7 separate regions of the Homo sapiens genome follow, and all the other regions are reported to be linked to region 7. The links are microRNA targets in miRTarBase. Many come from high-throughput screens and were not tested one by one. Region 7 holds a microRNA gene; each other region holds the end of a gene's coding sequence.

What was found. The annotated mature microRNA hsa-miR-6893-5p reads CAGGCAGGUGUAGGGUGGAGC and lies in region 7 at 2,809-2,829, opposite strand. An mRNA with a match to its seed (bases 2 to 7 or 8) in the 3' UTR can be bound and repressed. Matches are read on the target gene's strand: a 7mer-m8 pairs with bases 2 to 8, a 7mer-A1 pairs with bases 2 to 7 and ends in A, and an 8mer does both.
Region 1: miRTarBase lists NR2F6 as a target of hsa-miR-6893-5p. The part of its 3' UTR that is shown has no 7-base or 8-base seed match.
Region 2: the mRNA of FERMT2 is a reported target of hsa-miR-6893-5p. Seed matches in the 3' UTR shown: 7mer-A1 at 1,139-1,145.
Region 3: the mRNA of POLR1G is a reported target of hsa-miR-6893-5p. Seed matches in the 3' UTR shown: 7mer-m8 at 1,225-1,231, 7mer-m8 at 1,355-1,361, 7mer-m8 at 1,517-1,523 and 7mer-m8 at 1,651-1,657.
Region 4: miRTarBase lists NAA20 as a target of hsa-miR-6893-5p. The part of its 3' UTR that is shown has no 7-base or 8-base seed match.
Region 5: miRTarBase lists SLC25A45 as a target of hsa-miR-6893-5p. Seed matches in the 3' UTR shown: 7mer-m8 at 1,283-1,289 and 7mer-m8 at 1,535-1,541.
Region 6: miRTarBase lists SPAST as a target of hsa-miR-6893-5p. Seed matches in the 3' UTR shown: 7mer-m8 at 2,058-2,064 and 7mer-m8 at 2,191-2,197.

Annotation. Positions count from the first base shown.
Region 1 is chr19:17,228,872-17,232,962 of GRCh38, reverse strand. NR2F6 (nuclear receptor subfamily 2 group F member 6) reads left to right here. Exons shown (of 4, transcript NM_005234.4): 4 at 337-1,080. The coding sequence ends at 611. OCEL1 (occludin/ELL domain containing 1) reads right to left here. Exons shown (of 6, transcript NM_024578.3): 6 at 3,744-4,091. The coding sequence ends at 4,038. Among named protein-coding and RNA genes, the nearest start is that of OCEL1, 4.7 kb to the right of the region's middle.
Region 2 is chr14:52,854,777-52,858,867 of GRCh38, reverse strand. FERMT2 (FERM domain containing kindlin 2) reads left to right here. Exons shown (of 15, transcript NM_006832.3): 15 at 318-1,595. The coding sequence ends at 491. All of the region lies in intron 1 of LOC105370500 (a long non-coding RNA gene), which reads right to left. Among named protein-coding and RNA genes, the nearest start is that of GNPNAT1, 65 kb to the right of the region's middle.
Region 3 is chr19:45,408,777-45,412,776 of GRCh38, forward strand. It overlaps POLR1G (RNA polymerase I subunit G), which reads left to right. Exons shown (of 3, transcript NM_012099.3): 3 at 1-1,961. The coding sequence ends at 725. ERCC1 (ERCC excision repair 1, endonuclease non-catalytic subunit) reads right to left here. Exons shown (of 10, transcript NM_001983.4): 10 at 1-949. The coding sequence ends at 899. Among named protein-coding and RNA genes, the nearest start is that of POLR1G, 4.1 kb to the left of the region's middle.
Region 4 is chr20:20,032,684-20,036,683 of GRCh38, reverse strand. It overlaps NAA20 (N-alpha-acetyltransferase 20, NatB catalytic subunit), which reads right to left. Exons shown (of 6, transcript NM_016100.5): 6 at 3,029-3,582. The coding sequence ends at 3,497. CRNKL1 (crooked neck pre-mRNA splicing factor 1) reads left to right here. Exons shown (of 14, transcript NM_001278628.2): 14 at 322-2,316. The coding sequence ends at 489. Among named protein-coding and RNA genes, the nearest start is that of NAA20, 17 kb to the right of the region's middle.
Region 5 is chr11:65,373,162-65,377,252 of GRCh38, reverse strand. SLC25A45 (solute carrier family 25 member 45) reads left to right here. Exons shown (of 7, transcript NM_182556.4): 6 at 177-435; 7 at 578-2,061. The coding sequence ends at 846. It also overlaps a transcript of FRMD8 not described here. Among named protein-coding and RNA genes, the nearest start is that of SLC25A45, 7.4 kb to the left of the region's middle. RefSeq lists an enhancer at 128-628.
Region 6 is chr2:32,154,091-32,158,181 of GRCh38, forward strand. It overlaps SPAST (spastin), which reads left to right. Exons shown (of 17, transcript NM_014946.4): 17 at 284-3,547. The coding sequence ends at 406. Among named protein-coding and RNA genes, the nearest start is that of SLC30A6-DT, 9.6 kb to the right of the region's middle.
Region 7 is chr8:144,432,786-144,436,876 of GRCh38, forward strand. MIR6893 (microRNA 6893) reads right to left here and starts at 2,834; the gene lies at 2,766-2,834. It overlaps TONSL (tonsoku like, DNA repair protein), which reads right to left. Exons shown (of 26, transcript NM_013432.5): 15 at 3,972-4,091; 16 at 3,773-3,896; 17 at 2,873-3,633; 18 at 2,689-2,765; 19 at 2,232-2,385; 20 at 2,026-2,104; 21 at 1,193-1,494; 22 at 803-974. It overlaps TONSL-AS1 (TONSL antisense RNA 1), which reads left to right and starts at 2,383. Exons shown (of 6, transcript NR_109770.1): 1 at 2,383-2,655; 2 at 3,966-4,091.

The DNA of each region.
Region 1 (4,091 bases), not on the chromosome of region 7:
TTGGCCAGGCTGGTCTTGAACTCCTGACCTCAAGTGATCCACCTGCCTCAGCCTCCCAAAGTGCTGGGATTACAGGCGTGAGCTACTGTGCCCAGCCCCAGCTGATTTGTTTTTGCAGAGAAGGGATCATACTATGTTGCCCTGGCTGGTCTCAAATCCTGGCCTTAAATGATGCTTCTGCCTTGGCCTCCCAAAGTGCTGGGACTGTGGCCGTGAGCCATCATGCCCGGCCCCCTGTTCTTACCCACAGTGGCGAGTGGTGTCCCCTAGTCACCCCTGTGGGCTCTGTGTTCTCTAGCTGCCTCCCACCTGTCTGACTTGCCTTTGTCCCCCTAGACGCCTGTGGCCTCTCAGACCCGGCCCACGTTGAGAGCCTGCAGGAGAAGGCGCAGGTGGCCCTCACCGAGTATGTGCGGGCGCAGTACCCGTCCCAGCCCCAGCGCTTCGGGCGCCTGCTGCTGCGGCTCCCCGCCCTGCGCGCGGTCCCTGCCTCCCTCATCTCCCAGCTGTTCTTCATGCGCCTGGTGGGGAAGACGCCCATTGAGACACTGATCAGAGACATGCTGCTGTCGGGGAGTACCTTCAACTGGCCCTACGGCTCGGGCCAGTGACCATGACGGGGCCACGTGTGCTGTGGCCAGGCCTGCAGACAGACCTCAAGGGACAGGGAATGCTGAGGCCTCGAGGGGCCTCCCGGGGCCCAGGACTCTGGCTTCTCTCCTCAGACTTCTATTTTTTAAAGACTGTGAAATGTTTGTCTTTTCTGTTTTTTAAATGATCATGAAACCAAAAAGAGACTGATCATCCAGGCCTCAGCCTCATCCTCCCCAGGACCCCTGTCCAGGATGGAGGGTCCAATCCTAGGACAGCCTTGTTCCTCAGCACCCCTAGCATGAACTTGTGGGATGGTGGGGTTGGCTTCCCTGGCATGATGGACAAAGGCCTGGCGTCGGCCAGAGGGGCTGCTCCAGTGGGCAGGGGTAGCTAGCGTGTGCCAGGCAGATCCTCTGGACACGTAACCTATGTCAGACACTACATGATGACTCAAGGCCAATAATAAAGACATTTCCTACCTGCACAGCCTCCCTGGTCTTTATTTTTATTTTTTATTTTTGAGACGGAGTCCTACTTCGTCACCCAGGCTGGAGTGCAGTGGCGTGATCTTGGCTCACTGTAACCTCTGCCTCACAGGTTCAAGCGATTCTCCTGCCTCAGCCTCCCCAGTAGCTGGAACTACAGGCACCCACCACGATGCCCAGCTAATTTTATTTTTGGTAGAGATGGGGTTTCACCATGTTGACCAGGTTGGTCTCGAACTCCTGACCTCAGGTGATGCACCTGAGGCCTCCAAAAGTGGATTACAAGCGTGAGCCACTGTGCCTAGCCTCACTTACTTTCTTTTGGTCAACCTTAATCTTTTTTTTTTTTTTTTTTTTTTTTTTTGAGATGGAGTTTCGCTGTTTCACCTGGGCTGGAGTGCAGTGGTGCAATCTTGGCTCAGTGCAACCTCTGCCTCCCGAGTTGGAGCAATTCTCCTGCCTCAGCCTCCTGAGTAGTTGGGATTACAGGTGCGCACCACCACGTTCAGCTGATTTTTGTACCTTAACTAGAGGGGTTTTGCCATGTTGGCCAGGCTGGTCTCGAACTCCTGACAGGTGATCCACCTGCCTTGGCCTCCCAAAGTGGTGTGATTATAGGCATGAGCTGCCGGGCCCTTAATCTTGTTTGGGCTCCAATGTCCTTGGGAGAAACCTCTGGGGCCAGTCCTGTCACATGATGTAAGGCGAGCCAATCAGAGACCACCATTCCCTGGGCCACAGCAACTGGTTTATGGAGGCCCTGGGATGCCAAACTAGCCAGTGAGATTGCACGGTGGGATTTGGAACTGGGAGAATCTAATTAAAGCAGAGCCAAGGATGGAAGATCAATTTCCCAAGATGCCTTTGGAGCCCCAGATCAAGCCATACCTGAAACCCTTGGGTGTTTTAAGTTCTGTGAACTCAGTCTCCCCCCTTTTGTGCCTGAGTCAATCTGACTTCAGTTTTTTTTCTCACATGGAACTAAAAATCTGTTTCAGAGATTGACGTTTGGGAGTCAGGCACCTACAAGGCCAAGACTTTGAAATGTGGGCTTCACTGGGTTGATACGGAATCATGTGGGGTACCAGGGACTCTCCCGTCCCAGCCTCGGGAGTGTGTGGCACAGCTCTGTGGTGGGAAAGGCACCTGTGGAATTCAGCACCAGAGCTGTAGGGCAGAGAGAAAGGGCCCGAATGGTGGTGGGGGTGGCACCTCTCACTGATGTCCTTCTGTAGCCAGGCGTGGTGGCAGGAGCCTGTAATCCCAGCTACTCGGGAGACTCAGGCACGAGAATCACTTGAACCTGGAAGGCGGAGGTTGCAGTGAGCTGAGATCGCACCACTACACTCCACTCTGGGCAACAGAGGAAGACTGTCTGAAAAAAAAAAAAAAAAGAAAGATGCCCTCCTGAAAACAGCAAGGGAAGAAGTCAAGTCTGTCACGCTGCCTGCTGGGCCAGTGCTCAGCTCTTAAGCAGCCCCAGTTTGCCAAAATGCTCCCTAGTCTCCCCATGTCCATCTTGAAGAAAGCCTTGGAAGACGAGAGATTAGGCCCCTCCTGTGGAGTCAGTGAGGGTTTCTTGTGGGCACGTTCCCAGAAGGGAACTGAGGCAGGGGCGGGATGGAGAGGACACCAGGTTCTCGTTGAAGGCTGCACTGGGTTTTGCATTAGGTCAGGGTCTCTCCATGGTGTCCTGTGAGTGAGTGGGTCCATGTCTACTCCAGTCAAACTGGACAGCAAGGTCTCATTTATCCAATGCACAGGACATCTGAGGGTTGAGTGAGACCATGGTGTCTGTCCTGCTGTTTGGCCCCAGGCCAGAGATCTGGATGTCTGTCCAAGGCCTGACTGCTGAACTCCTACTTTTCCTACAAAACCCTACCCACATGGCCCTTCCTGCGGGAAGAGATCTTGAGCCTCCCTGGCTATTAAGACTCTGCTGTGCAGCCTTCTTTTACTGGACTCAGGGCTATCTTCCCCAGACTAGGGCCTTCTTGAGGACAATCGTGGTGGCCCAGTGGTTGACGCTGTCTCCCCTGCATGTAGTTGGTCTTCCTGGTTGCTTCTTGCCCCTGTGGCTCCCTTGGGAGACTGAAACTCAGAGGACAGCTTCTGGTCTGCTGTTACATGGCTCCCACAGGGAGACTGGCCCCACCTGTGCCCCACCCATCACAGCTAGGGCCTGGGATGGGTCAGACACTGGAAGAGCCTCCCCCTAGGCCATGCATATGGACCGTGCCCACACACTGGGGTCAGTTGCTGTCCTGAAGTGCCCAGGGAGACACAGAGAGTGAAGAATCCAGCTGGACGTGGTGGCTCATGCCTGTAACCCCAGCACTTTTGGAGGCTGAGGTGGGCGGATCACTTGAGGTCAGGAGTTCCAGTCCAGCCTGGCCAACATGGTGAAACCCCGTCTCTACTAAAAATATGAAAATTAGTTGGGCATGGTGGCAGGTGTCTGTAATCCCAGCTACTTGGGAGGCTGAGGCAGGAGAATCACTTGAACCGGGGAGGCGGAGGTTGCAGTGAGCCAAGATCGTGCCACTGCACTCCAGCCTGGGCGACAGAGTGAGACACAGTCTCAAACAAAAACAAAAACAAAAAACAACTTTTTGTGTGTGTGACAACTGAGTGAAATCAGAAGTGTTAAGTAATTATACTCAGTAGGTGTCTAATACATGTTTATTTCACTGGGATGGAGAGCAGGCCCTACTTCCAGGGAACAGGTTGAGATCTGGAGTCCCTGTAGGGTCAGAGCTAGAGGACCCAGAGGAGGAAGTCCTGGAAGGCCTTCCTGGAGGAGGGGCTGTCAGAGCTGAGTCCAAACTGAAGAGGCATTTGCAATCCAGGAGAAAGCGACCCCTGGTAGGGGGAGCTGCAAGAGGAAAAGCTGAGAGATACCAAGAAATGCAAGGGACCTGCATCCCCATGCATCCCTCTGCCCATCTGCAGGGGCACTTAGAAGTACACGGAGCCCTCGCTGTCTCCTTGGTCATCGAATTTCTGGATCTG
Region 2 (4,091 bases), not on the chromosome of region 7:
TGCACGACTTGAAGAGAGGCATTCTCATTAATTGAATCAATCACCAGAGACCATTTGAGAACTGAACGACCTAAAACCCTTGCATTCCTAGTCTTCCTTTTCAGAACATGAAAACTTAAAGTGTAGGGGAAGGGCAATAAACTTAGCTTCTTCTTTGGGACTTAAAGGCATTATTCGTTTAGGTTTTAGACAGACTGATCATTTGAGGATCAACAAGTGTTTTGTGATATGACAGACTTTAAGTAGCACAGTAGTTTTGTGTGGACCCAGCCACCTAGCATTTGGGACAGCACTGATGGCTCTTGTCTTTGTTCCAGGTCACCGTAGAGTTTGCAGATGAAGTACGATTGTCCTTCATTTGTACTGAAGTAGATTGCAAAGTGGTTCATGAATTCATTGGTGGCTACATATTTCTCTCAACACGTGCAAAAGACCAAAACGAGAGTTTAGATGAAGAGATGTTCTACAAACTTACCAGTGGTTGGGTGTGAATAGGAATACTGTTTAATGAAACTCCACGGCCATAACAATATTTAACTTTAAAAGCTGTTTGTTATATGCTGCTTAATAAAGTAAGCTTGAAATTTATCATTTTATCATGAAAACTTCTTTGCCTTACCAGACCAGTTAATATGTGCACTAAACAAGCACGACTATTAATCTATCATGTTATGATATAATAAACTTGAATTTGTCACACATTCCTTAGGGCCATGAATTGAAAACTGAAATAGTGGGCAAATCAGGAACAAACCATCACTGATTTACTGATTTAAGCTAGCCAAACTGTAAGAAACAAGCCATCTATTTTAAAGCTATCCAGGGCTTAACCTATATGAACTCTATTTATCATGTCTAATGCATGTGATTTAATGTATGTTTAATTTGATATCATGTTTTAAAATATCCTACTTCTGGTAGCCATTTAATTCCTCCCCCTACCCCCAAATAAATCAGGCATGCAGGAGGCCTGATATTTAGTAATGTCATTGTGTTTGACCTTGAAGGAAAATGCTATTAGTCCGTCGTGCTTGATTTGTTTTTGTCCTTGAATAAGCATGTTATGTATATTGTCTCGTGTTTTTATTTTTACACCATATTGTATTACACTTTTAGTATTCACCAGCATAATCACTGTCTGCCTAAAATATGCAACTCTTTGCATTACAATATGAAGTAAAGTTCTATGAAGTATGCATTTTGTGTAACTAATGTAAAAACACAAATTTTATAAAATTGTACAGTTTTTTAAAAACTACTCACAACTAGCAGATGGCTTAAATGTAGCAATCTCTGCGTTAATTAAATGCCTTTAAGAGATATAATTAACGTGCAGTTTTAATATCTACTAAATTAAGAATGACTTCATTATGATCATGATTTGCCACAATGTCCTTAACTCTAATGCCTGGACTGGCCATGTTCTAGTCTGTTGCGCTGTTACAATCTGTATTGGTGCTAGTCAGAAAATTCCTAGCTCACATAGCCCAAAAGGGTGCGAGGGAGAGGTGGATTACCAGTATTGTTCAATAATCCATGGTTCAAAGACTGTATAAATGCATTTTATTTTAAATAAAAGCAAAACTTTTATTTAATATTTATTTTTGTACTTGTTTTTAATGTTTACATAGTATTAATTTAGTAGAAATGAACTTCTGCCTTTTGGAATTGCTTTGCCTGCATGTTATTTTGTGAGAACAACTGGTTAGTATTCCACAGCGTTGCCAGATAGAGATACTTTATCTCAAAGATAGTCTTTCACCTCAATTGAAAAGCCCTCATTTTCTTAATACTTAAAAATGAATGTGTAATATCTAAATGTTAGAAATGTACTTATAAATAGAAGTTGGCTGTGGCAGAATTTGTTTTAAATAACAAAATTATTCTTGGTTTACAAAAAAAAATACATTTACGAATTTACTCCCAGTCATTACTGCTGTCATCATTCAAGACTCAGATTTCTAGTCCTTTACCCTTTGCATGTAATTAGACCAATTCCTGTTGATTTTCCCCTCACACAGCCTTGCATCTTTTCTCTTGTCATTGCTGTCACCGTCATCCAAATTCAGTTCTTTGTCCTGTGCCTGCTGTAGTGTGGCACCATCTTAAGACAAGGCTGTGATGACATTCTCCATGACTTTTCTTTGTACTCCAAAGCCATAACAGGCCTTGCTCCTAAATCTAAGAGCTCCTTTCCACTAAACATTTTAAAATATACTCCCTTTCCTCATCTTTAGTAAGTGACTGTGCAAGTCACCAACTTACATGTCACTTATTAAAAGCCCCAAAACATGTTTGATTGAAACCACACCTATTCAAGTGCTTTCTAGTCCCATGGCCTCCACACAAGTGAGAGTAGCCTCTGTGCTGATTGCCACACCTCTGGTTTGCCCCGCTGCCTTCCCAGTGATCTTGAGATTAATCCAGCCCCAACATAGCGCTAGCTGCATTTCAGCGCTAATGACTCCTTATTGCCTACAGGATAAAAGCCAAAGTAAAGTGCTCAGAGGTTTTGTATGGTCTCCGAGCCCACATTTTCATCCTTATCTCCCAACAATCTGCATTCCAGTCCAGCTGGGCAGCTCACATTCTCCACTTTGCACTCATCCATCCATCATTCCCCAAGTCTGGAATGTCTTTAGTCCTGGACCTTCATCCAGTTTGTATCTGTCTACACCTCATCTGTCTAGCATTTTAGAAAAAGGTCAAGTGGGCCTGGGGTGGTGGCTCACACCTGTAATCCCAGCACTTTGGGAGGCCGAGGTGGGTGGATCACGAGGTCAGGAGTTCAAGACCAGCCTGGCCAAGATGATGAAACACCGTCTCTACTAGAAATACAAAAATTAGCTGGGCATGGTAGCACATGCTTGTAATCCCAGCTACTCGGGAGTCTGAGGCAGGAGAATTGCTTGAACCCAGGAGGCGGAGATTGCAGTGAGTTGAGATTGTGCCACTGCACTCCAGCCTAGGCAACAGAGCAACACTCCATCTCAAAAAAAAAAAAAAAAAGGCCAGGCGTGGTGGCTCACGCCTGTAATCCCAGCACTTTGGGGGGCCGAGGCAGGCGGATCATGAGGTCAAGAGATCAAGACCATCCTGGTCAACATGATGAAACCCCGTCTCTACTAAAAATAGAAAAATTAGCTGGGCATGGTAGTGCGCACCTGTAGTCCCAGCTACTCAGGAGGCTGAGGCAGGAGTATCGCTTGAACCCAGAAGGTGGAGGTTACAGTGAGTCAAGATCTCGCCACTGCACTCCAGCCTGGGTGACAAAGTGAGACTCCATCTCAAAAAAAAAAAAAACCAAAAGACTCAAGTGCTCTTTCTTCCATAAACACTTCCAAGTTTCCTTGCAGCCAAAAACTCTCTTCCTCCTGAACTGCCATTGAATTTGGTCCTTCTGTGGAACTAAAGAGTAATCGTCCTTATTATGGTTGAGTATATCATGTTGCCCCTAACATAGAATTGTTACATCCTTGAGGACTGGATCTTAGTGCTATGGTTTCTACTTAGAATCAGTTACACATGGGTTTATTGAATATAATGATGGTTATTTTGGAAATAACCAAATTATTAACCAAACCAAATAACCAAAGGAATTATTATTAGAACTCAGAATTTTTGTAGCCTCAGTATAGTTTAATACAGAGCAAACTAACTTGGACACCAACTATGCAACAGGAAACGTGCTAAGTACTCACTCTTTCAAGGATTCATACAATTCAGCCTCTTCATTTTATAGATGAGGCTCGGGGAGGCCAATTGACCTGTTTAAAGTCACACATCTATGATTACTGCCAAGGCCAATCATATCCCTATCTAGTAGTAGTAAAAACAAACCTTTCATGAATTCTGAGACCACTATTAGTAGTGACCTCTCTAGAGAGAACATAGGTCTGTTAGAATACTAGCTGGGACTTCCAGAGACGTAGCTTCAGCTTTCTGCTCCATGTGACTCAAGCTCAGTTGGACATGAAAGCACTGGTGACAGAACCCCAACCTAGCTCCCATCCAATTCTTTCCCTTAAATCATCAGGTTAGAAGCCTGCTGGAAGCCCCTGGCAGGGCGCAGTGGCTCAAGCCTGTAATCC
Region 3 (4,000 bases), not on the chromosome of region 7:
AGCAGGAACAGATTAACACTGAGCCTCTAGAAGACACAGTCCTGTCCCCGACCAAAAAGAGAAAGAGGCAAAAGGGGACGGAAGGGATGGAGCCAGAGGAGGGGGTGACAGTTGAGTCTCAGCCACAGGTGAAGGTGGAGCCACTGGAGGAAGCCATCCCTCTGCCCCCTACGAAGAAGAGGAAAAAAGAAAAGGGACAGATGGCAATGATGGAGCCAGGGACGGAGGCGATGGAGCCAGTGGAGCCGGAGATGAAGCCTCTGGAGTCCCCAGGGGGGACCATGGCGCCTCAACAGCCAGAAGGAGCGAAGCCTCAGGCCCAGGCAGCTCTGGCAGCTCCCAAAAAGAAGACGAAGAAAGAAAAACAGCAAGATGCCACAGTGGAGCCAGAGACAGAGGTGGTGGGGCCTGAGCTGCCGGATGACCTTGAGCCTCAGGCAGCTCCCACATCCACCAAGAAGAAGAAGAAGAAGAAAGAGAGAGGTCACACAGTGACTGAGCCAATTCAGCCACTAGAGCCTGAACTGCCAGGGGAGGGACAGCCTGAAGCCAGGGCAACTCCGGGATCCACCAAGAAGAGGAAGAAGCAGAGTCAGGAAAGCCGGATGCCAGAGACAGTGCCCCAAGAGGAGATGCCAGGGCCGCCACTGAATTCAGAGTCTGGGGAGGAGGCTCCCACAGGCCGGGACAAGAAGCGGAAGCAGCAGCAGCAGCAGCCTGTGTAGTCTGCCCCCGGGAAACTGAGGAACTAAAGAAAGCTGAAGGTGCCCACCTGGGCCACCAGAAGGTGACACCCCCAGAATCCCTCCCCAGAGACTGCACCAGCGCAGCCAGCAGGAGCCTGGCCTGGGAGGACGATTTATTATTACACTGGGGGTTTCCTTGGCAGCTGGGGTCATCAGGGTACTTTCAAGAAGGGCTCGTGCAGGACATCAAACAGCCTCCGGGCCTGGATGGGAGGGAGAAAAAAATGAGGAACCAGTCATTAAAGGAGCTGTTTCCTGGGTAAATCTAGAGTGGGGTTTTGGTTCTTTATTTTCCCCTATACCCTCAAGCATTTATCCATTGAGTTACAAACAATCCAGTTACAATCTTTTTAAGTTATTATTATTATTATTATTTTTTTTTTTTTTGAGATGGAGTCTCGCTCTGTCGCCCAGGTTGGAGTGCAGTGGCGCAATCTCGGCTCACTGCAAGCTCCGCCTCCCGGGTTCACGCCATTCTCCTGCCTCAGCCTCCTGAGTAGCTGGGACTACAGGCCCCTGCCCAGCTAATTTTTTGTATTTTTTTTTAGTAGAGATGGGGTTTCACCACGTTAGCCAGGATGGTCTCGATCTCCTGACCTCCTGATGCGCCTGCCTCAGCCTCCCAGTGCTGGGATTATAGGTGTGAGCCACTGCGCCTGGCTAAGTTATTATTATTTTTTTGAGACAGTCTCCTGGTGTCACCCAGGCTGGAGTGCAGTGGTGTGATCTTGGCTCACTGCAACCTCCGCCTCCTGGGTTCCAACGATTCTCCTGCCTCAGCCTCCCGAGTAGCTGGGCCTAAAGGTGCCCACCACTATACCCGGCTAATTTTTGTATTTTTAGTAGAGACAGGGGTTTCACCATATTGGCCAGGCTGGTCTCGAACTCCTGACCTCGTGATCCACCTGCCTTGACCTCCCAAAGTGCTAGGATAACAGGTGTGAGCCACCGCACCCTGCCAAGTTATTTTAAAATGTACCATTATTATTGACTATAGTCACCTGGTTGTGTTATCAAATAGTATGTCTTATTCATTCTTTCTTTGTGTGTGTGTGTGTGTGTGTGTGTGTGTGTGGTACCCATTAACCTTCCCCATCTCCCTGCCAGCCCCTAACTACCCTCCCCAGCCTCCAGGAACTATCCATCCACTCTTATCTCCATGAGTTCAATTGTTTTGATTTTTAGATACACAAATAAATAAGAACATGCAATGTTTGTCTTTCTGTGCCTGGCTTATTTCACTTAACATAATAATCCCCAGTTCATTATGTTGTAATTGACAGGATCTCATGTTTTTTTTGTTTTGTTTTGTTTTGTTTTGAAAAGGGTCTCGCTCTGTCGCCCAGGCTGGAGTGCAGTGGCACAATCTTGGCTCACTGCAACCTCCGCCTCCCGGATTCAAGCGATTCTCCTGCCTCAGCCTCCCAAGTAGTTGTGATTACAGGCACGCGCCACCACACCCAGCTCATTTTTTCATTTTTAGTAGAGACAAGGTTTCACCACGTTGGCCAGGCTGGTCTTGAACTTCTGGCCTCAAGTGATCTGCCCGCCTCGGCCTCCCAAAGTGCTGGGATTAGAGGTGTGAGCCACCGCGCCCAGCCAGGATCTCATTCTTTTTTATGGCTGAAGAGTATCCATTGTGTGTAAGTACCACATTTTCTTTGCCTGGTCATCTGCTGATGGACACAGGTTGGTTCTAAGTTTTGGCAATGTGAACTGTGCTGCAACAAACAGGAGTGCAGATACCTGTTCCATACACTGATTTCCTTTTTTTGGGGATATACCCAGCAGTGGGATTGCTGGATCATGTGGAACCTCAACTTTTCAGTTTTTAGAGGAGCCTCCAAACTGTTTTCCATAGTGGTTGTACTGATTTACATTCCCATCAAAAGTATATGAGGGTTCCCTTTTCTTCACATCCTCGCCACCATTTGTTATTGCCTGTCCACCATTTGTTATTGCCTGTCCTTTGGATAAAAGCCATTTTAAGGCCGGGCACCATGGCTCACACCTGTAATCCCGGCACTTTGGGAGACCGAGGTGGGTGGATCACCAGAGGTCAGGAGTTCAAGACCAGCCTGACCAACCTAGGGAAACCCCATCTCTACTAAAAATACAAAAACTAGCTGGGCATGGTAGCGAGTGCCTGTAATCCCATCTACTCAGGAGGCTGAGGCAGGAGAATCGCTTGGATCCAGGAGACGGAGGTTGCAGTGAGCTGAGATCATGCCATTGCACTCCAGCCTGGGCAACAGAGTGAGACTCCATCTCAAAAAATAATAATAAGCCATTTTAATAGAGCTGAGATGGTATCTCATTATAGTTTATTTTTGGTTTTTGGTTTTCTTTTTTGAGATGGAGTCTCACTCTGTCACCCAGGCTGGAGTGCAGTGGTATGATCTCGGCTCACTGCAAGCTCTGCCTCCCAGGTTCATGCCATTCTCCTGCCTCAGCCTCCCGAGTAGCTGGGACTACAGGTGCCCACCACCACACCCAGCTAATTTTTTTTTGTATTTTTAGTAGAGACGGGGTTTCACCATGTTAGCCATGATGGTCTCAATCTCCTGACCTCACGATCCACCCGCCTCGGCCTCCCAAAGTGTTGGGATTACAGGCGTGAGCCACCATGCCCGGCCTATTTTTGGTTTTTTTTGAGATGGAGTTTTGCTTCTGTTGTCCAGGCTGGAGGGCAGTGGTGTGATTTCAGCTCACTGCAACCTCCGTCTCCCGGGTTCAAGAGATTCTCCTGCCTCAGCCACTCAAGTAGCTGGGATTACAAGCATGCGCCACCACACCCAACTAATTTTTATATTTTTAGTAGAGATGGGGTTTCGCCATGTTGGCCAGGCTGATCTTGAACTCCTGGCCTCAAGTGATCTGCCCGCCTCGGCCTCCCAAAGTGCTGGGATTACAGGCATGAGCCACTGCACCCAGCCTCACTGTAGTTTTGATTTGCATTTTTCTGATGATCAATGATGCTGAGCACCTTTTCATATGCCTGCTTGCCATTTGTATGTCTTTTGAGAAATGTTAATTCAAATATTTTGCCCACTTTTTGATTGGATTATTATATTTTATCCTATAGAGTTGTTAGAACTCTTATCTTCTGATTATTGATTCCTTGTCAGATGGTTAGTTTGCAGATATTTTCTCCCATCCTGTGTGTTGTCTCTTCACTTTGTGGAATGTTTGCTGTGCAGAAGCCTTTTATTCTTTTTTTTTTTTTTAATTTTTGAGATAGAGTTTCACTCTTA
Region 4 (4,000 bases), not on the chromosome of region 7:
TATTATGTAAAGATCGTTAAACGTTTTCTTAAGTGTAAGACTGCACAATGTAGTTGGAGACACTGAACATCTTGGTTGGCTATAGAGGAGCTGTGCTTAGATTTTTAGAATGTTTTTCTACCAGTTTAGTTCTCACTGAGCTACAGTTGCTGCTTACTCACTCCCAGTCTTTCAGACCCAGCCCTTGTTCTTTCTGTAGTAGACTTTGATGTTATTTTGTAAAATGGAGGTAATCATCCGGATTTCCAGTAAAAATTCTTCACTCTGATATGTGAGTATATCACCCACGTTTGCTTATCTTTTCATTTTTTATTTCTGTAGTCTGATGCAGGCTGGGAAGAATACTTTGATTACATCTTTCCAGAAGATGCTGCCAACCAACCTAACCTCAAACTCCTGGCCATGGCCAAACTGTGGAAGAAACAGCAGCAGGAAAAGGAGGATGCTGAGCACCATCCAGATGAGGACGTCGATGAGAGTGAATCCTGATCTTTTTTTCATAGACAAATGTTTTGTTATTTTTATAAATTAATTGTTTGGAACTCTTGTGACTCCTGGAAGTTCTTATATATTTCACCAGTAAGAAATTGATTGGTATCTTTGATGGCTACTTTTTAAGTTATTTTTTAAATGCTCTTGGGTTAGCTAGGGGTAGGGATTGCAAGTAAAGGACTTTTTTAACTGCTGGATTTGTTTTTCCAACTGAGTCCAAACTTTTCTAATGTCTGTCCACATCATGCATTAGGAAATGTAATTAAGGTAACATTCTACAGTTACTTTTCATGTCATACCCATAAAGATAGTTTATGCATTCATCTGAAATGTGTAACTTTTTCATGTCTTCAGAGTCACAGACTTGAGTTCATTTCCCAGCTCTGCCACTCATGATTATATAACTTAATTTTCATTTTCCTCATTCACAAAATGGGCCAATAGTTTGACAGCTCATTTTGAAGATTACATTATAAAAGGAATATACCTGGTGGGTGCATAGTAAGTGCTCAGTAAATTGTTTGTTCTAAGCCACTTTTAAAAATGGTTTCATTCCTTGTAGAATTGAATGCGAGTGGATTAATAATTTACCTTACTTTCTTACTAGTGTCCAGTTATATTGTTTTTTAGAACAACACTTGGAAAATAATTTGCAGTGATTATATTTCTGAACAAGGTTCAGAAAACATTGTTTACTAAGAATTTAGTCTAATAATTTCAGTTAGGCGCTCATCAGTTCTCCAGAGTGGTTGAGTTTGTAATACCTTGTTTAAAGAATAATGGCTTGTTCACGTGTGTGCTATGAAAAATGATGTCCCATGTTCACATAAATTTGGGAAATTCTGGACTAAGACTTAAGTCTCGTTAATCAAATCTCTTTATAGTTAGGCTTCTGTACATTATGTATCTCCAGTAGCAATGTTGCCATATTATTTATTTCCCAAACTTAGTGGACAATGGAGTCATTTCTACCTAGAGTACCAGTAAACATCTCCCAGTGTGCTATAGTAGAAAATGTCTACTCCTCACTGCTGACATGTTAAACTTACTCTTGGTTTAGAGCATGTGTAGAAACACCTAAGGTAGCTCTATGCTAAATAATGAAGAGTAGCACAAGAATGAATGTATTTGCTGATACGTTGCTCACATTCTCAAGCAAAAATTCAACTGCATTAACCGATCTGAGAGTTTTCCTTTAACCTGGACTGTGTTTCTCAAGCACATTTTTTCTTTGTTCACTGCCCAAGGACTAGAACTGTATTTTTAAGGTTGTTTTCCCCTAAAAGGACCTTTAGTAAGCAAATTTATTATTAAATGTGCACATCTTATTCACCCAAGGGAATAAAAGCTACTTCGTAATGTTGTTACTAAATTTTATCTTGAAAATAAATAACAGTGTTTGAGGACAGAAGAAACTAGGACTGTTGTTGAGATAAAATCTGTTTTCAGCCTGACTGCTTTAGTCACTGGACGAGCATCAGCTACTGCGGTGTCAGATCACTTCTCGAGTAGAGGTCTGCCTAGTGAGTGAGCAGGAGAACATCATCTTAATAGCCTTTGGCTCACCCAGAGTCAGGGAGAGATGAAAATAATAGGTCAGAATGCAAGTGACTTAATCACAGTCTTCCTAGAATTATCTGTTTATGTTGCATGAATGCATAAGAAAAAAATTCTGTCATGTTCCCAAGGTAGAATTGTAATAAGCATGTGCCAGTGTGAAAGCTGGAAGGAAAAAAGCTATTCTCTAACAGGAGAACATAAAGATTCATTTCTCTCCCACCCTCAACTCCACCAAAGTAAATCCTTTCGATAGTAAAAGTTTAATAATTTCTTGTGGGTTTTTCTTTCGTTAAGTCTTTCACTAACTAACTAACTGGATATTTTCACATATTACAGAGGAAGACACTACACATAAAATACATGGTTGGCCTATGATATAGTTATATGGCCTTTCTTTAGGAATTATGTTCTTTTCCCTCTCCAAAAAAAAAAAAAACCTCAAGTTTTTTTTTTTTTTTTTTGGCTTTTTAGAAGGGCAGGATTTAAGCAAAGCATTGTGAAGAGGAGAAAAGATCTAGGACTAACAAACAAACAGTATAATGGTATGAACGCAGGTGACTGGGAAGAATTTACTACACGATAAGAAGGGAGCTTCTTAAGTATGCTGGACAGTGATTGCTTCAAGTGTGCATTTTTAAAATACTACGTATGGAAGTCACAATTTAATTAAACGTATCTTAAATGATGATGACCTTTCACAATCCTGATTTTTTTTTTTTTTTTTTTTCTTGAGGCAGGGTCTTACTCTGTTGCCCGGGCTGGAGTGCAGTGGGACGATCTCAGCTCACTGCAACCTCCACCTCCAGGGTTCAAGCAATTCTTGTGCTTCAGCTTCTGCATAGCTGGGATGCCCAGCTAATTTTTGTATTTTTTTTAGTATAGATTTTGGCCAGGCTGGTCTCAAACTCCTGACCTCAAGCAATCAGCCTGCCTTGGCCTCCCAAAGTACTGGGATTACAATCTGATTTAGTTTTACAAATGACTAACAAACTTCAGAAAACATTCATAGAGTCAATAATGTATTATACATCTTAGATTTATACATTTCATATATGCTTTTAAAGCTTCAATTAACAGTTCAATACAAAATTTAAAAACAAATATATGCAGCAGTGGTTCTCAGGCACAGAACTGAGGAGGAGACTGGAGCAAGTCTTTTCCCTAGCATACATACAGTGAATACTATGAACCATGAGAGTGGTATGTTTCCTTCTGACCTAGCTGCCTTTTTGATTGAATTTTGTTACAATGAACAGCTTTAATAGGTATGATATTGCTAACTGGAAACAATGAGATTTAAAATAAATTGATAACCTGTATTTTCTTGAAGTCTTTAAGACCTAAAATGATTACTTTTCTCCTAATAGAGCTCCAGAATCATCCAATGAAAATAATATTGTCCATAAAGCATCTAGAGTATCTGCCTAAGAACCACTGCCCAGGGTTATTCAATGTCTTCAGGCCTCACAGGATGAGGTAATGGTATGATGGATTTCTTCTCAGTATCCCTGGAAAGTGCTTTCCTCATATCTGTAAAGAAGCAAAGTTTAATATAAACACCCAAAAAATGTATTATATCAAATGTAAAGTGTATAGGTAAAGTTCCCATAAGAGGTTTTATCCCTACCCCCACTTCACCATATTCTAAGCAAAATGTATTTATAAATGTCTCCCAATTGCCAAGTGTACCAGATGCTAACCAGACCTCACCCAGTATTCAGCTCACAATACACGTTTTCTTGTTAGCAAAATAATATGTATGTAACAGAGTGAAACAGTAAGGTACAGAAATTAACCATTGGTTAGTTAATAGGTAAGTTAATTACTACTACTAATAGGTTGATAAAGGTAGGTTGAGGGAAATTTAAATTTTAAAGTCAAATATTCTACATTTATTAAAATAATCAAATACTACAATCTGTAGAAAGAATGTAACTGTTTCGACTTC
Region 5 (4,091 bases), not on the chromosome of region 7:
CATGCAGACATCCTGGCCATCCCAGCCACACATGCACGTGAGAGGCTGGGTGCCGGCAGGGTTCCTGAGGGACTGGAAGATGTGGCCCCCTGCCTGCCTCCTTCCTCTTGTGAATATAAGGGGCCAGTTCCCAGCCCAAAGCCCCACCCGGGGCCCTCATGTTTCATCACCAACAGGCCTACTGTCTGGCTCCTTTTGACCTCATCAAAGTCCGGCTACAAAACCAGACAGAGCCAAGGGCCCAGCCAGGGAGCCCCCCACCCCGGTACCAGGGGCCCGTGCACTGTGCAGCCTCCATCTTCCGGGAGGAGGGGCCCCGGGGGCTGTTCCGAGGAGCCTGGGCCCTGACGCTGAGGGACACCCCCACGGTGGGGATCTACTTCATCACCTATGAAGGGCTCTGTCGCCAGTACACACCAGAAGGCCAGAATCCCAGTAAGTAAAGTGGCGTGAGAGGATGGGGGACAGAGGTGTGGGTAGCAGGCAGGGTCCAGCGGGGACTGGGGAAGGAAACTAGGGTCTGGGGAGGATGCTCTGTTCTGGGTCTGACCCCTGCTCTGGGCTCTCTCTGCCCCAGGCTCAGCCACGGTGCTGGTGGCAGGGGGCTTTGCAGGCATTGCTTCCTGGGTGGCAGCCACGCCCTTAGACATGATCAAGTCCCGGATGCAGATGGATGGACTGAGACGCAGAGTGTACCAGGGGATGCTGGACTGCATGGTGAGCAGCATCCGGCAGGAAGGACTGGGAGTCTTCTTCCGGGGGGTCACCATCAACAGTGCCCGCGCCTTTCCCGTCAATGCTGTCACCTTCCTCAGCTACGAATATCTCCTCCGCTGGTGGGGATGAGCCCTGCGGCAATGCCAGCAGCTCCCCATCAGGCCCACGGCCTGGAGGCCAGTTTGAGATTGGAGGCCAGGTTGAAAGCTTGCAAATCAGTGCAAGAGGCTCAGCCCTTCCTAACCAAGGTGCCTCCCACCCGCGCAGATCTGGGCTGGGCAGACACCTGTGGGAGCCGGAAGCCAGGGGGCCTGTGCAGCCTCCCTGTGTAGCTGGCCTTGACTCCTTTGCCTCCCACATCTGTGAAACAGGGAGCATGAGGCACAAGTGAGCTGGCAAGTGGTGCTGGTGACATCCCAGCTCCTGTCCTGTGCCTTCACCTCTTTTTTTTTTTTTTTTTTTTTTTGAGATGGAGTCTTTCTCTGTCACCCAGGCTGGAATGCAGTGGCGTGATCTCGGCTCACTGCAACCTCCGCCTTTCCACCTTCCGGGTTCAAGCAACTCTCCTGCCTCAGCCTCCCAAGTAGCTGGGACTATAGGCGCCCGCCACCACACCCAGCTAAATTTTTGTATTTTTAGTAGAGACAGGGTTTCACCATGTCAGCCAGGATGGTCTTGATCTCCTGACTTTGTGATCCGCCCGCGTCGGCCTCTCAAAGTGCTGGGATTACAGGCGTGAGCCACCGCGCCCGGCTGCCTTCACCTCTTAAGGAGCTCTGAGACTCCACTTCTGAGAGTCCCTGCGGCCTCCCACCTCCCTGCCTTTCAAAGCTCTCTCCCCCATGACCCAGGATAACCCTATGTCTCCTCCCCCAGAATCCTTCAGTGGCTCTCATCACCTTCAGGAAAAGCCCAAACTCCTTCCACCCTCCAGGTTCCTCCCTCCCCACGAGGCTTTGTTCTCCTGGGGTTGCTTCCTGGACCCTGAACAAGTTGTGCTCTCATTGGCCGGGCCTGGCCAGCAGTGCACAGTGCCTGGCAGGTTGACTCTACCATCCCCGGGGCTGGCCCCGCTCTCCTCCGAGACCCAGGCTGAGCCCAGTCCCCTCACCCTTCCTTGACTTACCTCCCCACCTGAGGCTGACTTTGGGGTTCCCAGACACCCTACCCACACACATGCCTTGATCATAGCACTTGCCTGCGCTTCTTCAGAGTCATTAATTTGCTTCTCGGCTTCCCCACTGGACTGTGAGCTGCCTGAGGTCAGGGATTGCGCTTTGGATGGTTTCCAGCCTGAGCCTGGTGCTTGAACAGACGTGTGCAATAAATGCTCGTTAAATGATGCGACTGCACTCCTGACCTGTCTCTTCACGCCAGCTGCCACACCTGCTTCCCTGGTCTTGCCACACAGCTTTCTGTTGAACCTCCCAGCCCCCATTTTCCTGCTCTGACCCTTCTCGAGGTCACCTGCAGTGGAGGATGCTGGGAGCTGGGGGTCTGTCTGCTTTGCCCACTCCCAGCCAATGGTGCTTGTTTTCTTTTTCTTTTTCTCTATTTTTTCTTTTATTAGATACAGAGTCTCACTCTGTTGCCCAGGCTGGAGTGCAGTGGTGCCATTATAGCTCACTGTGGCCTTGAACTCCTGGACTCAAGTGATCTTCCCACCCTAGTCTTCTGAGTAGCTGGGACTACAGGTGTGTGCCACCGCACCTGGCTAATTTTTAATTTTTTTGTAGAGAGGAGGTCTCACTATGTTGCCCAGGCCGTCTTGAACTCCTGAGCACAGATAGCCCTCCCACCTTGGCCTCCCAAAGAGCTGGAGTTACAGGTGTGAGCCACTGTTGTTTTCTTTACCCATCTCACTTGCTCAGTGGGAATTAAAAACTGGCTGAGAGGGTTCTTTTAACTGACAACAAAATTGAGCATCAAGGGCCATTTGTACCCACTAATGTCCCTATCTGGTCTGAGATCAACGTGAGTCCACCTCATGGTGACCTGAATTCCTGCCATTTACTGGGGGCTCCCTGTAGAAACAATCACAGTGTTATGATCACAGTTGATAGAGAGGCAGCCTCGGCTCAGAGACATTATGTAACTTGTCCTAGGTCACACCGCGGGTAAATCATACAATTTGCTTAGATGCCTCTGAGCTTCCAGCCGCAGTGTCCAGTTACTTAGCTACCCTGCTCCACCTGGGCACATGGCTACCCTGCTCCACCTGGGCACATGGGGGTCTTCTGCGAGTCACCTAAGTTCAACTCCCCCCACACCACCCTGGGCTAGACCTGCCGGGACCATACTACGTCACGTGCTCATCAGAGCTCTCCTTCACCAGATCATGTGCTGCAGATGGCTGGAGGCCATCTGCAACTAGTTTTTGTATTTTTAGTAGAGATAGGGTTTCACCATGTTGGCCAGGCTGGCCTCGAACTCCTGGTCTTATGTGATCCACCCGCCTTGGCCTCCCAAAGCGTTGGGATTACAGGCGTGAGGCACCTGGCTCTGTCCTTGTTGCAACAGTTTAGGCCCTTGTTGCAACAGTTTAGCAAGCTTCATCCTGACTCAGTGGGTAAGGTACTGTGAGTTTCTAAGTCAGTGGTAATCCAAGTGTGGTCCATGGAGCAAAGCTTATTAGAAATGCAGCATCTGGCCAGACACAGTGGTTCACACCTGTAATTACAGCACTTTAGGAGGCCGAGGCAGGAGGACCACTTGAGGCTAGGAGTTCAAGACCAGCCTGGGCAACATAGTGAGACCTTGTATCTACCAAAAATTTAAACATTAGCCAGGTGTGGTGGCACTGTGCCTGTAGACAGAGCTGCTTGGGAGACTGAGGTGGGAGGACTGTTTGAACCTGGGAGGTTGAGGCTGCAGTGAGTTTTGATTGCGCCACTGTACTCCAGCGTGGGTGATGGAGCAAGACTCTGTCTCAAATAATAATAATGATAATAATTTTTAAAAAGATATGCAGCATCTCAGGCCCCACCCCAGACCTACCAAATCAGAATCTCTGAGGATGGGGCGCAGGAATCTGTGTTGTGAAAAGCTCTCCCAGGGATTTCTACACATGCTAAAGTTTAAGAATCGGTGTTCTGGGGGCTCCTGATCGTGGGAATGTGCTGCCCTTTCGGGCTGAGAAAGGTGTATGGTGGAAGAGACTCGAACTCCTAGTTTCTAGCAGTCTCTGCTCCTCCTATGGAAAACACAAGGTCCACCTGAGGCCGGTTCCCAGGTGCCTTGAGGCAGGCACTGCCCTTCCTGTGCCTCAGTTTCCTCTGTGATCCCTTTTTTTTTCTTTTGAGATGGTGTGTTGCTCTGTCACCCAGGCTGGGGTGCGGTGGCACGATCTCGGCTCACTGCAACTTCTGCTTCCT
Region 6 (4,091 bases), not on the chromosome of region 7:
GTTTTGTTTTTATATTGGAAAAATATTATGCTTTCAAATGTTAATACCTATGAAACTAAACACAAGTAATAAATATATTAGTATAGCATTTATTAAGGTTTCTTGTGTAGCAGATCAACATAGAAAATATATTTAAATGGCTGACATAATTTTCTAAGAATACATACACGTATATTTTTTATAACATTAAGAAACAGCAGCATCATTACTTTAATCCATCATTTCGTTAACCACCATATACCTGTTGATCATTTGTATTGTCATGTGCTTTTTAAAAATCTAGATGAGAAATATTCGATTATCTGACTTCACTGAATCCTTGAAAAAAATAAAACGCAGCGTCAGCCCTCAAACTTTAGAAGCGTACATACGTTGGAACAAGGACTTTGGAGATACCACTGTTTAAGGAAATACCTTTGTAAACCTGCAGAACATTTTACTTAAAAGAGGAAACACAAGATCTTCAATGAACGTCATCGGCTACAGAAACAGCCTAAGTTTACAGGACTTTTTAGAGTCTTACATATTTGTGCACCAAACTTGAAGATGAACCAGAAAACAGACTTAAACAAAATATACAATGCAAATGTAATTTTTTGTTGTTTAAGGCCTTGCCTTGATGGTCACAGTTATCCCAATGGACACTAAGTTAGAGCACAACAAAACCTGATTCTGGTCTTCTTTACCAATATAATCATAATGTAAATAATAATTTGTATATTGTGTTGCAGATGAAAGTATTCCAGGAACAGTGAATGGTAGAAGACACAAGAACATTTGTTTGTTTGTCTTCTGATGTTTTTTCTTAAAATAGTAATTTCTCCTACTTTTCTTTTCTACTGTTGTCTTAACTACAGGTGATTGGAATGCCAAACACTCTTAAGTTTATTTTCTTTTTTCGTTTTATAAATTCAGTGTGCCAAATGAAACTTTTTTCCTAAGTAACTGTAATAGGAAAAAGTTTATTTTGAGAGTTTCTTCTTCATAAATCTACAGACATTAAACAATTGTTGTGTTCTTTTTACCTTTTATTTTTCTATTACCTTGCTACCAAACAGTTTAGATAGCAATATAATAGCAAAAAAGCAAATATGGTAAAATAGAGAAGGTTTGAAGGTTTGAGTTACTCTGTCATATAACATGTAGATCAGTCTTCATGTGACCTGCAGTATTTTTTTTTCTAATGTATTTGTCAGAAATCTGTTGTAGACTGTTAACTTCTTCCTGATGGAATTTATTTTCTGCAAGAATTATTCTGATATTTAAGAGAGCCAATTTTAACTGCTGTGAAAATGTTTCCAGTGCAAGAGAAGGGAAATACTAGGAACTAAGACATTTCTAATTTATTGCTTATTACTTTCTTAATTTTACAGGATAATTATAAGCAAGTGGAACTACCATCTTTTATTCTTAATAATTATTAATCCCTTCAATGAAACTTTAAAAAAACTGAATTTTTATACATGGCATACATTTTTCTAGTTCCTTCTGCTTGCTTTATTAACTCAAAAGTTCTAGTTCTAGTCTGTTGATCTGCCTTTTGTTCTCCCAAAATGTACAGTAATTCCATTTGTTTGTATAAATATGCCTGGATTTTCATTATAAAAATGTCATTGTAGGGAGTAGAGACTCATATCATGGCCTTTTAAATATTGTAATAAAGGCAAATAGATATTTGCCCTTAGTTTACTGGTTAAAAGTTTGTTTACAGAACTTTTCTCTGGTGCTTAAATGATGCTATGTAAAATGTCATGAGTGGAAAGAATATTTGTAGTAGTAACAAGAATTTTTCATTTAGGAAAGATTTCTTAGGTTTTGAAAGAATACATTAAAATAAAAAACTTGCCCCTACTAGGTAAGAACTTTATAATGAAGACATACATTCTTCTTAATTTTACTCTTGCTCTTGTTAAAGATTTGTTTGAATATAGAAGATGCATGATTTCTGGGTTTTTTTTTTTTTTTGAGACAGAGTTTCGCTCTTGTTGCCCAGGCTGGAGTGCAATGGCGCAATCTCGACTCACCACAACCTCCGCCTCCCAGGTTCAAGCAATTCTCCTGCCTCAGCCTCCCGAGTAGCTGGGATTACAGGCATGCGCCACTACCCCAGCTAATTTTGTATTTTTAGTAGAGATGGGGTTTCTCCATGTTGGTCAGGCTGGTCTTGAACTCCTGACCTCAGGTGATCCGCCTGCCTCGGCCTCCCAAAGTGCTGGGATTACAGGCATAAGCCACTGCGCCCAGCCAGAAGATGCATGATTTCTTAGGATCATATGCTGTTTGTAGCCATAAGGTAAATCATGTCTCTTCCAATCATGACTTTGGAACTCCCTGAATAATAAAAATGAGAGTTGAGATAAATAGGGGAAAAAAAATTTTTTTCAAGCCAGAGCTATGCATATGTTAGGTGATGGGTAGTATCCCTTTAAGGTCTCAAACATTACAACATCAATTATGAAATACTGATAACGAAAGGTAGTAATGAAATATATATGATGAAAAGAATTGAGAAGTTCTAAATTAAGACATTTCAGTTAAGCTCATAAAATTTCATTGTTTTCATTTAAAAGATTAACGTTATTGATACTTGGATAACTGGCTAATCATATTAAAGGACTATGTGGTTCCAGCTCAACTTTTAATATATTGTCTCCTTTAAAACTATCATGGTTATAATTCTATTGGGAAAGACTTTTAGATAACAAAGATTTCAAATGTTAAAAGAGATAAAAGTCAGGTTAATACTATCTTAAACACTGAGTCAGAAAATCATTACTGTATAGAAGTTGCTTTCCTGATCAAGTCTGAACTTCAGCTAGTGCTAGAGAACTATTTTCTATGACTTAACTCTAACCAAGTTTTATTTTAAGCTGTTTCTTTGATAGAAGGGCCATGAAAATAGAGTAATGATATAGTAGGAGATAAGGGATTGGTTTGGTCTTTTTCAATAAAGATAGAAGTTGCTGAAGTTTTCTGAATTAATAATGACTTAGATTGTGACCTTTTAGATTCGGTGTTGAGCTCTGTGTTGTATTACTTCCTAAAAGATAATGCTTAAACATTAAGCATTAGTGTGCTCTTCATGTTAATATGGCAGAGTTTTGTAAACTAAATTAAAACTTACTGATATATTGGACTTTGAGCCAAGGGAAAGAATGAGTACTATCTTTCCAGATATCTTAAGGGTAAAAGCTTATTCTAAGACAGTCTGTCCATTGAGAATATTAGATTTCTGACTTGCAAATATGTTTGTACTCCAGAAGAATTAGAGGAAAAGCAGATACTAGAATTCTAATTTAATTACATATACAGCCGTCTTTGTTTATAGTGTAGAATTCTTTATATTTTGTACAAAAACTAATTCTTTTGGTAAAATGAACCATTTACAGTTCGGTTTTGGACTCTGAGTCAAAGGATTTTCCTTTAAATGCTTGTCTCAATTTTAGTCTGGTCTTTTGTACTTTTCTTCAGAAGAAATGAATTAAAGGGTACAGTTGCATAAAGTGGGTTTTTATCCTAATGTATTGGAAATAAATGATAAACTTTATTTTGTCTTTACTTTTTTACTTTAAAACTTTTTGATATTTTAGGGGTTGGAGTCTGATAATGAAGGAGTTGTGTGTATTGGACTCTTAGTAACAATTATAAACGCTTAACAAAATATAGAAAGCAATGATTGGGTGGCTCTGCAGAGCAATCAAAACAAGGTAGAAACTGCAAAGTCCTATAATGGAAGAGATTCAGGCTGGGTGTGGTGGCTCATGCCTGTTTGGGAGGCCAGTATGGGAGAATCGCTTACACTCAGGAATTCAAGACCAGCCTGGGGAATATAGGGAGACCCTGTTTCTGCCAAAAAAAAAAAAAAAAAAAAAACTAAACTAAAAATTAGCCAGGTTTGGTGGCCTACACCTGTAGTCCCGGTTACTCAAGAGGCTGAGGTTAGAGGATCGCTTAAGCCCGGGAGGAGGAGGTTGCAGTGAGCCAAGATCACACCACCACACTCCAGCCCAGGTTACAGAGAACCTGTCTCAAAAAATAAAAAGTAAACGAGATTCACCTTAACCAGCTTTTACCCATAGGGCAATTTCCAG
Region 7 (4,091 bases):
TGGATGACACCCAATTCCCAGCCTCTTGGCACTGGGACCCCAGTCTCTGCAGCCTGAGTGGGCTCACAGTGGAACTGCCTCAGGCGAACAGCACTCAGCTGGCGAGCACGGGATGGGGACCACAGGACACTAGCTGCCCGGACTCTGCTCTCGGTGTGTCCTGCGGGGGTCAGCCTGGCTGGGTGGGCACCAGACGCCCCTCGGAGGCAGACCCTGTACCCACACATCCATCTATTGCTCCCAGGTGCCAGGCCCTCCCGGAGAGCCAGGTCTGGCATCCCAGGCCCCTAGACGTTGTTTGTTTCGTTTTTTTGACACGGAGTCTTGCTCTGTCGCCCAGGCTGGAGTGCAACGGCGCGATCTCGGCTCACTGCAAGCTCCGCTTCCCGGGTTCATGCCATTCTCCTGCCTCAGCCTCCTGCGTAGCTGGGACTACAGGCACCGGCCACCACGCCCAGCTAATTGTATTTTTAATAGAGACGGCGTTTCACCGTGTTAGCCAGGATGGTCTCGATATCCTGACCTCGTGATCTGCCCGCCTTGGCCTCCCAAAGTGCTGGGATTACAGGCGTGAGCCACTGCGCCCGGCCTAGACGCTTTTTTCTTAAGGGATGGGGTCTCACTATGTGGGCCAGGCTTTCCTGGAACTCTTGGCTCAAGCGATACTCCCGCCTCAGCCTCTCAAGTAGCTGGGACCACAGGTGTTGCCCCTGTGTGCCCAGCCTGGGCCCCCTCTGAAAGTCCTGGAAACCCTCAATGCCCCAGGGCTAGGGAGTGGACAGGGAGTGCCTGGTCAGCTCACCTTGGAAAGCACTACCCAGTGCTGTCTGGTGGCTCAGAAAGAAGCTGGGGCCGAAGCCACACGCCTGCAGGCGCAGGGTGCTGAGTAAGGGGCAGGCGTGCAGGAGGGAGGCCAGGGACTGGCCACAGCCGTCCCCCAGGGGGTTCATGCTTAAGTCCAGCTCCTCCAAACTCTGTGGAAGACACAGGCTGGCAGTGAGCCCCCAGCAGTCCCACGGACAGGGTCCCCCTTGGGGCTTGGCTTGGCAGTCTCTTCCCCACCTTGCCTGGCATAGCCTATTACAGCCGGGCACTGGCTGGCTCTCCCAACTACCCTAGACCACCCAGGGACCTGCAGAATGGGAACCCCAACTCCCCGCTGTTGAGGGCCTGCTGCTCTCTGTGCCTATACCTGCAAGGTGGCTTGGCCTGGGAGCCCCATGGCAAGCTGGCGCAGGCCTTCGGGACCCAGGTGATTGGAGGAGAGGTCAAGGAGGGCCAGGCTGGGCATGGTGCCCAGGGCAGCCACCAGCTCAGCCACACACTTGTCCCCCAGCCGGTTCCCTGCCAGGCGCAGCTCCCGGAGTGCTGTGTGCAGCTTGAGGGCCCGCAGCAGGGGTGTAAGCTGGGCCTGGTCCAGGGCCAGGGAGCAGGCGCTGAACGAGAGGCCCAAGCCCTGGAGCTCCACGGCCTGCAGCACCTGTTGGTGCTCCCCTGCGGGAGGGATGTGATGTCACCAGGGTAAGGCCGGCCCTTTCTGCCCTCTGAATCCCAGAGGGCAAACCAGGCAGCCCCTTTTCAACAGCCCCAGGGGTCACCCACCAGACTTGCTGTAGAGCCCACTCGCACATGCCTGTGGGTCTAGCACTGTGAGGCCCTGGGGGCCGGGGTGGGTCTGCAGCACCCTGAGCTCCACCAGTCACTGCCAGATTCCACACCCCCCGGGACAAGCTTTCTGGGAAGCTTCCCCAGCAGCTCCCAGCCCATGCCAGGCCCTCCTCCTTGGGTTTGACTTTCCAGGCTTTCGGCTGCTTTTTGCCATCTCCCTGTCAGCAGATCATGGGGGCTGAGGGCTGTCCTCTCCCTTCCACCCACACATCCAAGTGCAGGACACAGCACCCACCAGGCTGGGGGAGGTGCACCCCAAAACACCCGAGGCCCAGGAATGAACCGGGCTGGTGGAGCCTGTGTGCCCAACCCCCTTGTACGACCTCACCCAGAAACTGCAGCTCTCCTGGCCCTCACCTTGCCCCAGGCTCTGGCAGGCCCTGCGGTAGCGGTCAGTCAACGGGGGCAGGTCCCACGAAGTCACCTCAGCCAACACCTGGAAGGCACCGTCATGAGCCACCTGGGGGCTCCCCCGGCTCACCTCATCATTGCTCTGCAGCCATGAGCCACCCGGGGGCTCCCGGTGCCTGAGGCCCTGGCTCCCCCTCCGCTCTGCGGCTCACCTCGTCATTGCTCTGCAGCACATCAGGGATGAGGTCCTGTGGGGCCAGCAGGGCCCCCTCTTTCCGTAGGGTGAGCCTGGGCAGCAGCCCGCAGGTCTGGTAGTAGCGCTGGGCCGCCTGCTCGGCCAGCCAGGCCACAGAGTGGGTGTCACTGCTGCAGGGACAGAGGCGCTGCTGCTGCTGCCTGCACACAGCCGGGGTAATGCCCCAGGGACCCGCCATCCCTGCCCAGGGCCAGAAGCCCCCTCAGCTGCTTCTCCCATTCCCAGGTAGCCGGCCCCTCCTCTCCCTGCAGCCCAGCACACCACCAGCCCCTCTGCTATTCCTGGGGGCCACAGGATCCTCCTGGAACACACCAGGGAGCCCTCGTCACACGCCCCACCCTGACATGCAAACACGAGCACCCTGGCATGGAGCTGCACAGGTGGGCTGCGGGGTAGGGCAGGCGATGCCTCACCTGTGTGGGACAGGGATGAGGAAGAGATGATCCTGAACTTGAACTCGAACCCGGATGGGAGGGGGCGGGGCCGGACCCTGGCAGGTGAAGGCAGCAGGGCTGAGTCAGGAGCCACAGTGGGCTCCACCCTACACCTGCCTGCCCGGAGTGGGGAGAGGGCTCTGCTCCAGGTCTGCATACCCACCAAGGGCTGGCCTGCCGCAGAGCTGTCCCCACTGGGCTCTGAGACCCTGGGGGTGCTGGGGCTCCCTGGAGGTTCTGAAGCCAGGCTGCTGGGCCCTGCGTTAACTGGCGCACTGCAACTCTGCATGCAGGTCAGGCGGACCTGCTTGGCTCGGGCACGGGGCCTGCTCTCCTCACTGTCCGACCCAGAGGTACTACTGGGCCTGCGGTTGTCTCCAGTGCCCCGGGGGCGGGGCCGGCGGCTGCGGGTCAGGGGCATGTCCAGCTCCAGCCAGTCCCCGGCCAGGCACTCCTCCTCCGGGATGAGCGCTGCCTGGGGGGCAAGGGCTTTGCTGTGGCCCCGCGGTGGGCCAGGCCCCAGCCGGCTCTGAGCACTGCCCACACCCCGGATGGCTGCCTGGTAGGCTGCCCGGCTGGTGCTGGCTGTGGCTGCTTCCCTGTTGCTGGCGGGGCCAGGCGTCCAGGCTGCCACCCGTTGTGCTGTGGCCGAGCACCGAGGCCTCTTCTGGGACGGCCGTGCGGGGCCTGCGCTGTCCTCGCCTTCTGAGCTGCTGCTGCTGCTGGCTGGCCCATGCCTGCTCCTCCGAGGCCTGGCCATGGCTGGTGCCGCCTGCCCTGGGGAGACCCTGACATGGGCCTGAGAGGCCTCTGGGAGTCTAGTGCTATTAGAGGGGGGTTCTGGGCAGGGGCTCAAAGGAGGAGAGGTCTCGGGGTCAAACAGAAGGCTGCTTGGGGTGTGGAAGGCCTGGGAGCTGTGGGGATCTGTGGGAGAGAGAATGCGTGTTGAGGCAGGGGCCCGGCACCTCCCGCTCCACCTGTGATGGAGCATCTCCCGAAATCAGGGCCCGGGGACTCTCAGCGTAGGCACAGCAACCCCAGGGACAAGGGACGCCCTGCTTGCCTTGGCCCGAGGCAGCCGCCTGGAGCAGCATCTCCATGGCCCTGGCCTTCTGCCGCGTCTCCAGGTCCAGGTCCCTGCGGTACAGCTTCACCCACTGCTGCAGCGTCTCCAGCGGGCTGAGGCCCTGTGTGGCATCAGTTGAGCAGGGGCACAGCAGCCCCCATAACCTCGCCCTTGCCCTCTGCCCCACCAGGCTCACCTTTCGAGTGCGGAGGGTGACGGACGCCCCCCGTTCAAGCAGCAGCTCAGCCACCTCGAAGTGGCCACAGTTGAGGGCATCGTGGAGGGGGGTGATGCCTTCGCAGCCCTGGCCACCTGG